2 separate regions of the Homo sapiens genome follow, and region 2 is linked to region 1. The links come from fine-mapping of genetic effects on gene expression. Tissue or cell type: tibial nerve. Region 1 holds a variant in brackets; the other region holds the start of a gene. All regions are shown on one strand. Distances are from middle to middle.

Region 1 (8,102 bases):
AGCCCTGGGGCCTTAAGCGAACACCGGCAGTAGCCTGCTGACATAGTTTGGATATTTATCCCTGCCCAAATCTCATGTTGAATTGTAATCTCCAGTGTTGGAGATAGGGCCTGGTGGGAGGTGCTTGGGTCAGGAAGGCAGATTCCTTACGGTTTGGTGCACGCCTCGTGATCATGAGCGAGTTCTTGAGAGATCTAGTTGTTTACGTGTGTAGCACCTCCCATAACAACTGTCTTTCTCTCCCACTTTTGCCATGTGAAGTGTCTGCACCCTTCTGCCAGAGGAAAAGTTCCCTGAGGCCTTCCCGGAAGCAGATGCTGATGTACAGCCTGCAGAACTGTAAGCCTATTAAACCTCTTTTCTTATAAATTACCCAGTCTTGGATATTTCTTTATAGCAATGCAAGAGCAGCCTAACATGGAAAATTGGTATTGAGAAGAGGGGAATTTCTATAAAGATACCTGAAAATGGCTACATCTGAAAATGTGGAAGTGACTTTAGAACTGGGTAATGGGCAGAGGATGGAAGAGTTTGAAGGGCTCAGAAGAAGACAGAAAAATGTGGAAAAGTTTCGAACTTCTTAAAGACTGGCTAAATCGTTGTAACCAAAATACTGATGGTAATATGGACAGTGAAGTCCAGGCTGATGAGGATTCAGATGTAAATGAGGAACTTACTAGAAACTGGAGCAAAGGTCACCCAGTTTATGCCTTAGCAAAGAGCTGGGGTGCATTGTGTTCATGCTCTAGGGATCTGTGGAAGGTCGAACTTGAGAATGATGACTTAAGATATTTGGCAGAAGAAATTTCTAAGCAGCAAAACATTGAAGAAATTGCCTGGCAGCTTCTAACAGCCCACACTCAGATGCAGGAGCAAAGAAATAACTTAAGGTTGGAATTTATATTTAAACAGGAAGCAGAATGTAAAAGTTTGAAAAATGTGGAGCCTGGCTATGTGGCAAAGAAAGAAAGAACTTTTTATGGAGAGGAATTCAAGCAGGCTGTAGAGCAACCACTTGCTAGAGATACTTGCATAACTAAAGGGAAGGCAAGTGCTACTATCCAAGACAATGTGAAAAAGTCCTTGAAAGCATTTCAGAGACCTTCATGGCAGCCCCTCCCATCATGGATCCAGAGGCCTAGGAGGGAAGAATGGTTTCTTGGGCCAGGCTCAGGGTTCTGCTGCCCTGTGTAGCCTTGGGACACTGTTCCCATATCCCAGCCACTCCAGCTCCAGCTGTGATTCAAAGGAGCCCAGGTACAGCTCATGCTGCCACTTTGGAGAATGTAAGCCATAAGTCTTAGTGGCTTCCATGTGGTGTTAAGCTTGCAGGGGCACAGCAAGAGTGAAGGAGGCTTGGCAGCCTTCACCTAGATGCCAGAGGATGTATGGGAAAGCCTGACATCCAGGCAGAAGTCTGCTGCAGAGGCAGAGCCCTCACAGGGCAGTAAGGAGAGGAAATGGGGGATTGGAGGACCCATACAAAGTGTGCCCACTGGGGCACAGCTTAATGGAGCTGTGGAAAAAGGGCCACCACCCTGCAGACCCTAGAATGGTAGATCCACTGGCAGCTTGCACCCTATACCTGGAAAAGCCACAGGTACTCAACTCCAGGCCATGAGAGAAGCCACAGGGGCTGAACCCTGGAAAGCCACAGTGGTAGAGCTGCCCAAAGCCTTGGGAGGCCATTCCTCATATCAGTGTGCCCAGGATGTAGGACACGGAGTCAAAGATTATTTTGGAGCTTTGAGATTTAATGACTGCCCTGCTGGGTTTCAAGCTTGAGTGGAACCTACAGCTCCTTTCTTTTGGCCAATTTCTCCCTTTTGCAATGAGAATGTTTAACCAATGCCTATAGCCCCATTGTATCTTGGAAGTCCATAACTTGTTTTTGATTTTATAAACTCAGGTGGAAGGGATTTGCCTTGTCTTGGATGAGAAATTGAACTTTTGGAACAAGTTAAGACTTTGGGGGACTGTTGAGAAAGCATGATTGTGTTTTGCAATGTGAGAAGTACATGAGATTTGTGGGGGACCAGAAATGGTATTATATAGTTTGGATATTTGTCCTTGCCCAAATCTCATGTTGAATTATAATTTCCAGTGTTGCAGATGGGGCCTGATGGGAGGTGTTTGGGTCATGGGTGGAGATTCTCCATAGCTTGGTGCTTTCTTGTGATAATAAGTGAGTTCTTGCAAAATATGATTAAGTGTGAAGCACGCCCCTTCCCCACCTCTCTCTCTATTGCTCCCATTCTCACCATGTAAAGTGCCTCAAACTTCCACCATGAGTAAAAGCTATCTGAGGCCTCCCCAGAGGCAGATGCCAGTGTTATGCTTCCTGTATAGGCTGCAGAACCATGAGCCAATTAAACCTCTTTTCTTTTAAATTATCCAATCTCAGGTATTTGTTTATAGAAATGCAAGAACAGCCTAATACACCTGTCAGTATTTCTTATGGGCCTGTGGTGGTGGTGGACATGGGGAGAGACTCCTCTGTCTGAGGAAAGGTGGGGGAAGAGTGGGAAGGCCTTTTTCTTGTGGTTTGGGTGTCATCTTCAGATGCAGTAAATTGAGCACCAGGTAGATTTCTAAGGCTTCCAACTATAGGCCCTGGCTCCCAGATGGCATCTCTGGACTCACCCAGGGCCTGGGTGACTTGGCAGTCCAAAGTGAAGAAGACAAGCCTGGTTGTCTTTACCACCTGCTGACTGTAGAGCCCTAGGGCCTTGAGCAAACACAAGTGGTAGCCAAGGAGTGGTAACAGTGGGTCTTGGATGATACCCAGTGCTGTGCTGTCTTCAGGTCTGACCCAGCACAGCCCTAGTGGTGGTGGCCACAGGAGTACTTGTGTTACCCCTCCCCCAGGAAGCTCAGGAAGCTTCCAGGAAGCTCAGCACAGAGAAGGGGAGAGAGAGATTCCATTTGTTTTGGAAAAAGTAAGGGAAGAGATCAAAAGTTTCTGCCTGGTACTCCAGATAATCCTTCTGGACCTTATCCAAGACCACCAAGGAGGTAGGTACCTCTACAAGTTGGCAAAAACCACAGCATTACTGAGCTTGAGGTGCACC[C/T]TAATGCAGATATGGCTGCAGTGACAAAAAAAAATGTAGATCACAACACCCAAGTCCCTTCAAATACCTAGAAAGCATTTCCAAGAGGACAGGTACAAACAAGTCCAGACTGGCAAGACTACAATAAATATCTAACCCTTCAATCCTCAGCCACTGAAAAACTTCCACAAGCATCAAGACAATCCAGGAAAACACGGCCTCACCAAATGAACTACATAAGGTAAGAGGAACCACTCCTGGAGAAACAGAGATATGTGAACTTTCAGAGAGAGAATTCAAAATAGTTGTTTTGAGGAAACTCAAAGAAATTCAAGATAACACTGAGAAGGAACTCAGAATACTATCAGATAAATTTAACAAAGAAATTCAAATGGATAAAAAGAATCAAGTAGCAATTCTGAAGCTGAAAAATGCAATTGACCTGCAAAAGAATACAGCAGAGTCTCTTAATAGAAAAAATGATCAAGCAGGAGAAAGAAATAGTAAGCTGGAAGACAGGGTATTTGAAAATACACAAAGGAGGCAAAAAAAAAAAAAGAATAAAAAAGAATGAAGCATACCCACAGGATCTAGAAAATAGTCTCAAAAAGGCAAATCTAAGAGTGATTGGCCTTAAAGAGGAGGTAAAGAGATAATGATAGAAAGTTTATTCAAAGGGATAATAGCAGAGAATATCCTAAACCTAGAGAAAGATATCAATATACAAGAAGGTTGTAGAAAAGCAAGCAGATTTAACCCAAAAAAGACTACCTCAAGTTATTTAATAATCAAACTTCCAAAGATCAAAGATAAAGAAAGGATCCCAAAAGGAGCAAGAGAAAAGAAAAAAATAACATACAATGAAGCTCCAATATATCTGGCTGCAGACTTTTCAGTGGAGAAAAGGGTAGGAGAGAGTAGCATGATATATTTAAAGCACTGAAGGAAAAAACAAAGTTTACCCTAGAAGAGTGTATCTGGTGGAAATATCCTTCAAATACTAAGGAGAAGTAAAAACCTTCCCAGAGAAACAGCTTGCTGAGGGATTTCATTAACACTAGACCTGTTCTACAAGAAATCCTAAAGGATGGTCTCCGATCTGAAAGACAAAGATGTTAACGAGCAATAAGAAATCAGCTGAAGGCACAAAACTCAGTGCTAATGGTAAGTACATAGAATATTAATTGTGGTGTGTAAATTCTTCTGATCTTAATTAGAAAGACTTAAAGAAGAACCAATCAAAAATAATTACCAAAACAACTTTTTAAGACACAGATAGTACAATAAGATATAAATAGAAACATCAAAAAATTAGAGAGGTGGAGGGATGAAGTTAAAGTGTAAAGTTTTTATTCATTTTCTTTTTGCTTGTTTGTTTATGCAATCATGTTAAGTTGCCATCAGTTTAAAATAATAGGTTATAACACATTATTTGCAAACCTCATGATAACCTCAAATCCAAAAACATACAATGGATACACAAAAAAATAAAAAGCAAGAAATTAAAACATACTATCAGAGGAAATCACCTTCACTAAAATAAAAAAAAGGAAGGAGGGCCAGGCGCAGTGGCTCATGCCTGTAATCCCAGCACTTTGGGAGGCCGAGGTGGGTGGATCACGAGGTCAGGAGATCGAGACCATCCTGGCCAACATGGTGAAACTCCATCTCTACTAAAAATACAAAAATTAGCCAGGCATGGTGGCGGGCACCTGTAATCCCAGCTACTTGGGAGGCTGAGGCAGGAGAATCACTTGAACCTGGGAAACAGAGATTGCAGTGAGCCGAGATCGTGCCACTGCACTCTAGCCTGGCGACAGAGCAAGACTCCATCTCAAAAAAAAAAAAAAAAAAAAAAAAGGAAAAGATAGGAAGGAAAGTAAGACCACACAACAACTATAAAACAAATAATAAAATGGCAGTGGTAAGTCCTTACTCATCAATAATAACACTGAATGTAAATGGACTAAACTATCCAATCAAAAACATAGAGTGGCTGACTGAAAAAAAGCAGGACCCAGTGATCTGTTGCCTACAAGAAACACGCTTCATCTATAAAGGTACACAGAGACTGAAAATAAAGGGGTGGAAAAAGAGTAGGAGTGGGTATATTTATATTAGACGAAATAAATTTCAAGCAAAAACTATAAAAAGAGACAAAGAAGGTCATTATATAATGATAAAGGGATCAATTCAGCAAAAGGATATAACAATTTTAAATATGTATGCACCCAACATTGGAGCACCTAGATATATAAAGCAACATTATTAGAGCTAAAGAGAGAGATAAACCCCAATGCAATAATACTGGAGACTTCAACAGCCCACTAGCATTGGACAGATCTTCCAGAAAGAAAGTCAACAAAGAAACTTCAGACTTAATCTGCACTATAGACCTACATGGATCTAATTGATATTTATAGAACATTTGCTCCAATGGCTGCTGAATTCACATTCCTCTCCTTAGCACATGAATCATTCTCAAGGATAAACCATATGTTAGGTCACAAAACAAGTCTTAACACATTCAAAAAAACTCAAATAATATCAAGTATCTTCTCTGACCACAATGGAATAAAACTAGAAATCAATAATGAGAGAAATTTTTGGAAAATATACAAATATATGGAAATTAATATGCTCCTGAATGTCCAGTGAGCCCCAACTGGTTAGTACTAAAAAATGCCCAGGCTACAGCATCACAAGGTAAAATGGGAACCCAATCCAAAGTGGGGTGGGTCGCTTTACTGTGGGGGGCTCCCTATCACTGAAAGCCCTAAACAGGCAAAACAGCCTCTACCAGCACTTTGGGAGGCTGAGGTGGACAGACACCTGAGGTCAGGAGTTGGAGACCAGCCTGGCCAACATAGTGAAACCCCACCTCTACTAAAAAATACAAAAATTAGCCAAGCATGATGGCGGGTGCCTGTAGTCCCAGCTACATGGGAGGCTGAGGCAGGAGAATCCCTTGAACCTGGGAGGCGGAGGCTGCAGTGAGCCGAGATGGCACCACTGCATTCCTGCCTGGGCAACAAGAGTGAGACTCCATCTCAAAACACAACAAAACAAAAAAAAACAAGAAAAATGAACTCGATTGCCTTCCACAGCACCCCTAATTCCAATGCGCATCCTTCTAGCAAAGGGGAGAAGAAGAGGAGTCAGAAGTAAGGGAAAACAGGGGGAGGAGCCAACAAGGCCGAATAGGAACAGCTCCGGTCTACAGCTCCCAGCGTGAGCGACGCAGAAGACGGGTGATTTCTGCATTTCCATCTGAGGTACCGGGTTCATCTCACTAGGGAGTGCCAGACAGTGGGCGCAGGCCAGTGGGTGCGCGCACCGTGCGCAAGCCGAAGCAGGGCGAGGCATTGCCTCACCTGGTAAGCGCAAGGGGTCAGGGAGTTCCCTTTCCGAGTCAAAGAAAGGGGTGACGGACGCACCTGGAAAATCGGGTCACTCCCACCTGAATATTGCGCTTTTCAGACCAGCTTAAAAACCGGCGCACCACGAGACTATATCCCACACCTGGCTCGGAGGGTCCTACGCCCACGGAGTCTCGCTGATGGCTAGCACAGCAGTCTGAGATCAAACTGCAAGGCGGCTGCGAGGCTGGGGGAGGGGCGCCCACCATTGCCCAGGCTTGCTTAGGTAAACAAAGCAGCCGGGAAGCTCCAACTGGGTGGAGCCCACCACAGCTCAAGGAGGCCTGCCTGCAACTGTAGGCTCCACCTCTGGGGGCAGGGCACAGACAAACAAAGAGACAGCAGTAACCTCTGCAGACTTAAATGTCCCTGTCTGACAGCTTTGAAGAGAGCAGTGGTTCTCCCAGCACGCAGCTGGAGATCTGAGAACCGGCAGACTGCCTCCTCAAGTGGGTCCCTGACCCCTGACCCCCGAGCAGCCTAACTGGGAGGCACCCCCCAGCAGGGGCACACTGACACCTCACAAGGCAGGGTACTCCAACAGACCTGCAGCTCAGGGTCCTGTCTGTTAGAAGGAAAACTAACAAACAGAAAGGACATCTACACCAAAAACCCATCTGTACATCACCATCATCAAAGACCAAAAGTAGATAAAACCACAAAGATGGGGAAAAAACAGAACAGAAAAACTGGAAACTCTAAAACGCAGAGCACCTCTCCTCCTCCAAAGGAATGCAGTTCCTCACCAGCAACGGAACAAAGCTGGATGGAGAATGACTTTGACGAGCTGAGAGAAGAAGGCTTCAGATGATCAAATTACTCTGAGCTACGGGAGGACTTTCAAACCAAAGGCAAAGAAGTTGAAAACTTTGAAAAAAATTTAGAAGAATATATAACTAGAATAACCAATACAGAGAAGTGCTTAAAGGAGCTGATGGAGCTGAAAACCAAGGCTCGAGAACTACGTGAAGAATGCAGAAGCCTCAGGAGCCGATGCGATCAACTGGAAGAAAGGGTATCAGCGATGGAAGATGAAATGAATGAAATGAAGCCAGAAGGGAAGTTTAGAGAAAAAAGAATAAAAAGAAATGAGCAAAGCCTCCAAGAAATATGGGACTATGTGAAAAGACCAAATTTACGTCTGATTGGTGTACCTGAAAGTGATGGGGAGAATGGAACCAAGTTGGAAAACACTCTGCAGGATATTATCCAGGAGAACTTCCCCAATCTAGCAAGGCAGGCCAACGTTCAGATTCAGGAAATACAGAGAACACCACAAAGATACTCCTTGAGAAGAGCAACTCCAAGACACGTAATTGTCAGATTCACCAAAGTTGAAATGAAGGAAAAAATGTTAAGGGCAGCCAGAGAGAAAGGTCGGGTTACCCCTCAAAGGGAAGCCCATCAGACTAACAGCTGATCTCTCGGCAGAAACCCTACAAGCCAGAAGACAGTGGGGGCCAATATTCAACATTCTTAAAGACAAGAATTTTCAACCCAGAATTTCATATCCAGCCAAACTAAGCTTCATAAGTGAAGGAGAAAAAAAATCCTTTACAGACAAGCAAATGCTGAGAGATTTTGTCACCACCAGGCCTGCACTAAAAGAGCTCCTGAAGGAAGCGCTAAACAT
Region 2 (8,095 bases), 440 kb after region 1:
GCATAGAGGTGCTGTCATTGTCTGTGTCTTTTTCTTTTCCTAGGGTCTGTTTATGTAACCAACTGTTGGTATTTTTCCATTGCCTCGTGATGGAAATTCAACGGGGGGCAGTCTCTGAGAGAACACCCAGCTACTACTGGGCGCTCAGAAAATGTGGCTGCCTGGGTCTGTGCTGGGTGCATGGGAGACGTCCCAGGTGCAGGCTACTGAGGCTGCTCTGCTGTGGTGACAACCCCCAAATCTCAGTGGCTTCAAACATCAAAGGTTTATTATTTATTTATTTATTTATTTATTTTAAAGACAGAATCTCGCTCTGTCTCCCAGACTGGAGTACAGTGGCATGATCTCAGCTCACTGCAACCTCCGCCTTCCAGGCTCAAGCGATTCTCCTGCCTCAGCCTCCCAAGTAGCTGAGATTACAGGTGCCGACCACCATGCCCGGCTAATTTTTTTGTATTTTTAGTAGAGACGGGGTTTCACCATGTTGGCCAGGCCGGTCTCGGAACTCCTGACCTCAAGTGATCCGCCCTCCTCGGCCTCCCGAAGTGCTGGGTTTACAGGTGTGAGGCACTGCACCAAAGGGCGCTTACTTCTCTGTCCCACTGCACGTCCCTCGCTGGTTGGTGAGAACTCTACACCACACTGTCCTCACTCAGGGACCCAGGCTGACAGAGCTACCACTCTCTGGGGCACTGCCAGTCACTTGTGGCAAAGGGAAGGGTGTGTGGCAAGTAGCTCACTGGCTCCTAAAGACCTCTGCCCAGGAGTGACAGGCATTCCCTGTGCACGTCCCACTGGCCGAAGCGGATCGGGGGGAAGGTGCAGCCCTGCCGTGGGCTCATAGCATCGGGATACTGACGGCCAGCAAAGGAGCCCCGCTCACCACTTCTTCAGAAGCATGCCGGCCTCAAACCACTTACTGGCACCTCCTGGGAAGGAGGGTGGGTTGTGCACGTGGTTGTGACTTCAGGCAGCTGCACTCATCCCCCACCTAGACGGAGGCTCCAGGCCTCAGGCAACGGAAGCAGCAGGAGCAGCCCTGTTTATTGACAAACTGGGACCCTCCAAGGCTCAGTCCTCAGAGGCAGAGTGAATGCATAGTCTGGAAAGAGGACAGAGAGTTCCGGGGCCACACCAGGCACAAGGCTGGGCTGCCTGAGCTTGCTGGATGTCCATCCCGTTCCTAACCTTACATTTGCAGACCCCATCCACTGCATGCTGGGCAGGCGAGACAGGCTGCCACTCTGAGATTAGACGGCCTGGCTCCTCCCAAAAGACAAAGGACGCTGGTAAACTCAGCCTACTCTTCTCTCTCATGCAGCCTTCCTCAGGGCTGCAATGACAGCATCTTAAACTCATTTGGCTGAAAGAAAAATTACAGTAGCAGGCCAGGCATGGTGGCTAACGCCTGTAATCCCAGCACTTTGGGAGGCTGAGGCAGGTGGATCACCTGAGGTCAGGAGTTCAAGACCAGGCCAACATGGTGAAACCCCATCTCTACTAAAAATACAAAAATTAGCCAGGTGTGGTAGCACATGCCTGTAATCTCAGCTACTCGGGAGGCTGAGGTACAAGAATTGCTTGAACCCGGGAGGTGGAGGTTGCAGTGGGCTGAGATCGCACCACTGCACTCCAGCCTGGGCGACAGAGGGAGACTCTGCCTAAAAGAAAAAAAAAATACAGTAGCCCCCTGTCATCCACAGGAGATATGTCCCAAGACCCTGCATAGATGCCTGAAACCAAGGCTAGTATTGGATCCTGCATATGCCATGTTTTTTCTACACATACATATCTGTAATATAATTTAATTTACAAATTAGGCACAGTAAGAGATTAACAACAACAATAAAGTAGAACAATTTTTTTTTTTTTTTTGAGGCAGAGTCTCGCTCTGTCACCCAGGCTAGAGTGCAGTGGTGCGATCTCAGCTCACTGCAACCTCTGCTTCCAGAGCTCAAGCGATTCTCCTGCCTCAGCCTCCTAAGTAGCTGGGATTACAGGCGCGTGCCATCATGCCCAGCTAACTTTTGTATTTCTAGTAGAGACGAGTTTTCACCACGTTGGCCAGGTTGGTTTCAAACTCCTGATGTCAGGTGATCCACCCGCCTCGGCCTCCCAAAGTGCTGGGATTACAGGTGTGAGCCCCCACACCCAGCCAAAGTAGAACGGTTTTAACAATACACTCTAATAAAAGTTATCACACACTGTGACCATACTTTTGCAGTTTGAGGTGTGACAGCAAAACTGGCATGAGGCTGGGGTCAGTGGCTCCCGCCTGCAATCCTAGTACTTTGGGAGGCCAAGGTAAGTGGATCACCTGAGGTCAGGAGTTCGAGACCAGCCTGGCCAACATGATGAAACTCCATCTCTACTAAAACTAAATTAGCCAGGCGTGGTGGCAGGAGCCTGTAATCTCAGCTACTCAGAAGGGTGAGGCAAGAGAATCGCTTGAACCCGGGAGGCAGAGGTTGCAGTGAGCCAAGATTGCACCACTGTACTCCAGCCTGGGTGACACAGTGAGACTATGTCTCAAAAAAAAAAAAAAAAAGGCAAAAAAAACTAGCACGAATTTCTTTTTCTTTAGAATTTCACAGATAGAAGATTCAGCATATGACTGTTTTCTTCCCATCTTTTCACTTAAAGGAAGCACCTTACGGTTTCTCTTTGGCATATCCGAACAGCCAGCATCACTACCAGCATCACTACTCTGGTGCTTTGGGGCCCTAATGAAGTAAAAAAAGACTGACCTGAACAGAAGCACTGTGATACCAGGACGGGCGATCTGACGACTAAGTGACTGACCGGCGGGGAGCATCTACGGCCTGGACGTGGGGAACACAGGGACGGTTTGCATCCCAGATGGCACGGCAGAGACTCTCCATCACACTGCTCAGAACAATGCACAAGGGAAAACTTGGGAACTGTTTGAAGAATTTTCCATTTAATATTGTCAGACCGTGGTTGACCGCAGATAACTGAACCCATGGAAAGTGACACCGTGGATAAGGGGGGACTACTGTGGACAGCTTTCCTGGGTGATTGGGAGACGTTTTTCTGGTAGAACACCAGGGCAAGGCTTTTCTGAGGATGATCTACGAATTCTCCCCAGAGCACTTCAACCTCCCAAACCAAGCTCTGCGGCTGTGCCATTGCACAGTCTTCCCACAGCAGAGAGGTGTGTTTTATTTAAGGCACAAGACTCTGGAAGAATGGGCTTTGTATTTATTTATGAGACAGAGTCTTGCTCTGTCACCCAGGCTGGAGTGCAATGGCGCGATCTCAGCTCACTGCAACCTCTGCCTCCCGAGTTCAAGTGATTTTCCTGCCTCAGCCTCCTGAGTAGCTGGGATTACAGGCATGCGCCACCACGCCCGGCTTGTATTTTTAGTAGAGACGGGGTATCCCCATGTTGGTCAGGCTGGTCTTGAACTCCTGACCTCAGGTGATTCACCCACTTGGGCTTCCCAAAGTGCTGGGATTACAGGCGGGAGCCAACATGCCCGGCCAAGAATGGGCTTTAGTATCTGACATTTGGCCAGAGTGATCAGGCATTTGCTCTCATCTTAGAGCTTCCAGATAATCACATAATTTGTAAAATGACATTTATAAAGAGACAATATGTTTCATACCTGTCATGGATACTGAGAGAGAGAGAGAGAGAGAGAGAGAGAATACGACTGCTTCCCAAACTCGTGGTTGCCAGCGTGACTCTGGGCCAGGCCTGCCTGAGCCTGGGCTCCTTTGGGAGTCTAGAAGTAGATGCGGCAATGGTGGCCCCCTCCTGGAAGCCACCCCACAGCCATCCCTACCAATCACAAGAAGGCTTACAACGCTCTGGGATCCCTACAGGGATGCCAACTCAAATGGATGTTTCTGCTGAGCCAGGAGCACACACTGGGCCAGCAAAGCCCACGCCAAGCGAAAGGAGAGCCTGGGCCTATGGGATACAGAGTTCTCTTTGAATAAACTACCTGCCCCATCTGGCAGGAGTCTGCCTGGCTGCATCCCTTCCCATGAGGGCTTCTGGAATGTGCAGGGGCAAAAACACTGCTGCACAGACATGCTCCTGGCAAGGGGTCCTGCTGGTGCCTTGTCAGGTTCTGGAGTGGTGTGAGCTGCACAGCATCGGTCCCCCTTGCTGCTCATGCCATCCGCCTCTCCTTCTCGCAACCTGCCTTCCAGGCAGTTGTGCTGTGAAGACCTGGGCGGCCTGGGTGCAGCAAGCTCTCCTGAGGCTGAGTACATGCAGCAAGAAGGCCGGCACACAGCCCCGCATCGTCTTCTGAGCCTGCCTGCTGCATCGCGCTTGGGTCAATCCCTGGCCCAGCTAAGCATCTGCAGCCAGGGGAGGATGAGACTAGGAAAGGGGCCTCCGGTCACATGGTTCAGTCCAGGAGACAAGAACTTTTCCAGAAGTCCATACGACCCGAGTGTGGGCTTCAGGTCTCCAAAAACGATAATCACAAGCTGGGCATGGGGCAGTTCTCTTTTCCCACTTGGGACCAAAGCCACCAGACTTTCTGGTGTCTGAAGTACACATTGATCTGCTCTCTGTCTACAGGTGAACCACAGATGAGCCTGCTGACCAGCAGGCTGGGCTACTGTGCTCTCATGCTCTCTCTCTCCCACATGGACATTTGTAAATAGCTCCCAGGTGGGTCAATTTCGGAAGGCACTCATTTGGGATCTGGCTGACGGCTCCTGGCTGCATTATTAGAGTATGTTCTGAAGGTAAGTTCTTGGCCGAGATGGGACCTCACAACAAGCACTGCTTGAAAGCTGTCCACTGAACGGTCCAGGGAAAGGATGACCCACAGATGGTGTCAGGAATGTTAATCAGGTAAAATTCACAGCAGTCGTTTGGCGAAAGAGTTTGCTGTCTAAGATTCCTTCTGGTTGAGGTGTCTCCGGAGCATGACCAGAGCTGCCCCGACAGCTGCATCCACATCCTGCCCAAAGGACATGGGCAAAGGGAAAGCCCTCTGCACCTCCTGCTTCAGCACGTCATTCCTGGACAGCGCACTCCCACTGCCCATCACCCTCTCCACGCCCCACTCCTGGAGCTGCTGAATCGGAAGCATGGAGTGCAGGTTCTGAACAATGCCTCGGCACAGAGCCCGGGTCACGTGCCCCAGGGAGAGGTCGGAGGAGGAGATTCTGGTCACTGAGGCCAGCTGGTCCGGCAGGTGCCTCTCCCCCAGCACTGTCGGGGTGATGGTCAGGTGGGTATCTCTCTGCTGCACAGCTGCCTGAATCATGCGTGAATACACAGTGGATTCTTCAACCTCCAGGCCTGCCAGAGACAGAGAAGATCTGTGTAAGCTCATGCGTCCCCCTCAGTGCAGGCTGACATGGCAGAGAATTCCCACAGGGTGGGAACAGCGCTACTTGCTGCTTCTCCTCCCGCTGCAGCTGGTGGTTCTGGGCTCAGGGACTGCTATAGCCAGGCTAGCTACACTCTGCCCTGGATCCCCGCCCGCTGTCTCAGTGCAGACCCCAGCCAGACATCAGGGTGAGGTCTCATTAAGTGCTGCCATGAGCCCTACCCCTAACACAGGCTTCTTAACCAAGGGGACCAAATGCATATACAGACTAATAACTATCATTGGCTGGGCGTGGTGGCTCACGCCTGTAATCCCAGCACTTTGGGAGGCCAAGGCGGGCAGATCACCTGAGGTCAGGAGTTCAAGACCAGCCTGGCCAACGTGGTGAAACCCTGTCTCTACTAAAAGTACAAAAATTAACCGGGCGTGGTGGCAGGCACCTGTAATCCCAGCTACTCAGGAGGCTGAGGCAGGAGAATCACTTGAACCTGGGAGGCAGAGGTTGCAGTGAGCGGAGCTTGCACCACTGCACTCCAGCCTGGGCAACAAGAGCAAGACTCCATCTAAAACAAACAAACAAACAAAACTATCATCATGGATGTCATTGGGGTCGTTAGCAGCATCAGAAATCCCAGGATCCAGGACCAATCACTGAATGGGCCACCCTCGTTATGTGCACAGGGCACCTGAAATCCAAGGAAGAAGGATGAGTTGACCATCCTACAACTTGCTTTTCAGTGTCAAGCCAGAATCCCGATCGGACTTTTCTCCCTGACACCACGTTAGCTCTGCGGGTTTTTTTTTTTTTTTTTTTTTTTCTGAGGCTCGCTGTGTCACCCAGGCTGGAGTGCAGTGGCACATATCCTATCGGCTCACTATAACCTCTGCCTCCCGGGTTCCAGCGATTCTCCTGCCTCAGCCTCCCAGGTAGCTGGGATTACAGGCCCACACCACCACACCTGGCTAATTGTGGTATTTTTAGTAGAGACAAGGTTTTACTACATTGGACAGGCTGGTCTCAAGCTCTCGACCTCAAGTGATCTACCTGCCTCAGCCTTCCAAAGTACTGGGGTTACAGGCATGAGCCACCATGCCCCGCCAGCTCTGCATTCTTAAAACAAACAAACGAAAAAAAAAAAAAGGCCAAGCGCGGTGGCTTACGCTGTAATCCCAGCACTTTGGGAGGTCAAGACAGGCGGATCACTTGAAGTCAGGAGTTCCAGACCAGCCTGGACAACATGGTAAAACCCTGTCTCTACTAAAAATACAAAAATTAGCCAGGTATGGCAGTGTGTGCCTGTAGTCCCAGCTACTTGGGATGCTGAGGCATGAGAAACGCTTGAACCCAGAAGGCAGAGCTTGCAGTGAGCTGAGATGGTGCCACTGCACTCCAGTCTGGGTGACAGTGCGAGACTCAGTCTTAAAAAAAAAAAAAAAAAGCCTTTGGTTTCGATACACTTTGACCTTAGAATCACTTTTGATCTATAACCTCGCATGACCTGAGGGAAAGCAAACATCACCTTGATAAGAAGAAAGTTATCAACATCAGGGTTTCTTGAGAGCACTGTGGGCCCCATCTCCAGACTTTCTGATTTAACTGGTGTGGGTTGCAGGCTGCGGGCTGGAATTTGTAAACACTTGCAGTTGATTCTTATACACAGCCACGCTGGGGAGCCCCCGACCTAGACCTAGGGCTTCTCCAGCCTAGGGCTTCTCCAACCTGAACATACAGATGAGTCACTCAGGGATCTTTTTTTTTTTTTTTTGAGACGGAGTCTTGCTCTGTCACACAGGCTGGAGTGCAGTGGCGCGATCTCGGCTCACTGCAACCTCTGCCTCCCAGGTTCAAGCAATTCTTCTGCCTCAGCCTCCCGAGTAGCTGGGACTACAGGTGCATGCCACCACTCCAGGCTAATTTTTGTATTTTTAGTAGAGACGGTGTTTCACCATATTGGCCAGGCTGGTCTGGAACTCCTGACTTCGTGATCCGCCCACCTCGGCCTCCCAAAGTGCTGGGATTACAGGTGTGAGCCACCACGCCCAGCCAGGGATCTTTTTAACACATAGCTTGGACTCAGATTGCCTAGGGCTGACCCTAACATTCTGCATTTGTTAAAAGCTCCCAGAGGAAACTGTACTCCAGGCCAGTAGACCAGGCTTTCTGAGGAGACAGTTCTAGAGCAGTGCTTATTAACACTTCAGGCCTCAGAATCACCTGAGGAACTTTTATAAAACTCATGCTCAAGGCCCACACCCCAGGTCCAATAAATCAGCATTTCTGGGCGTGGGACCAGGATGCAACGATGTTTTTAAACTCCACAGTATTTCCAGGGTGTGGTCAGTGCCAAGACCCACCAATCTAGAGAGTCACTGAGGAGTCACGCCATGGGAATGTTTAACCTCTGCAAATGCACAGGTGCAGTGGTATTATTTCAGCTCACTGCAACCTCTGCATCTCGGGTTCAAGTGACTCTCCTGCCTCAGCCTCCCGAGTAGCTGGAATTACAAGCGTGTGCCACCACACCTGGCTAACTTTTGTATTTTTAGTAGAGACAGGGTTTCACTATATTGGCCAGGCTGGTCTCGAACTCCTGACCTCAGGTGATCCGCCCGCCTCAGCCTCCCAAAGTGCTGGGATTACAGGCATGAGCCACCGCGCCTGGCTATTTTATTTTTTAAATCATGTGCTTATCTTTCTTTAGTAAAAGTTCAGGAAAAAAAGTTTTCTTTTTTTTTTACAGACAGGGTCTTGCTATGTTGCCCAAGCTGGA

The links. PIP is the estimated chance that this variant, and not a neighbour inherited with it, causes the effect.
Region 2: it holds the start of TRPV1, and the variant in region 1 is fine-mapped to the expression of TRPV1 in tibial nerve (GTEx, PIP 0.95).

Annotation. Positions count from the first base shown.
Region 1 is chr17:3,170,304-3,178,405 of GRCh38, forward strand. It overlaps LOC100288728 (a long non-coding RNA gene), which reads right to left and starts at 6,632. Exons shown (of 4, transcript NR_147912.1): 1 at 6,573-6,632. The variant C/T (reference allele first, on the strand shown) is at 3,072.
Region 2 is chr17:3,605,680-3,613,774 of GRCh38, forward strand. TRPV1 (transient receptor potential cation channel subfamily V member 1) reads right to left here and starts at 3,732. Exons shown (of 17, transcript NM_080704.4): 1 at 3,630-3,732; 2 at 2,748-2,886. SHPK (sedoheptulokinase) reads right to left here. Exons shown (of 7, transcript NM_013276.4): 7 at 2,561-5,293. The coding sequence ends at 4,881. RefSeq lists an enhancer at 3,622-4,123.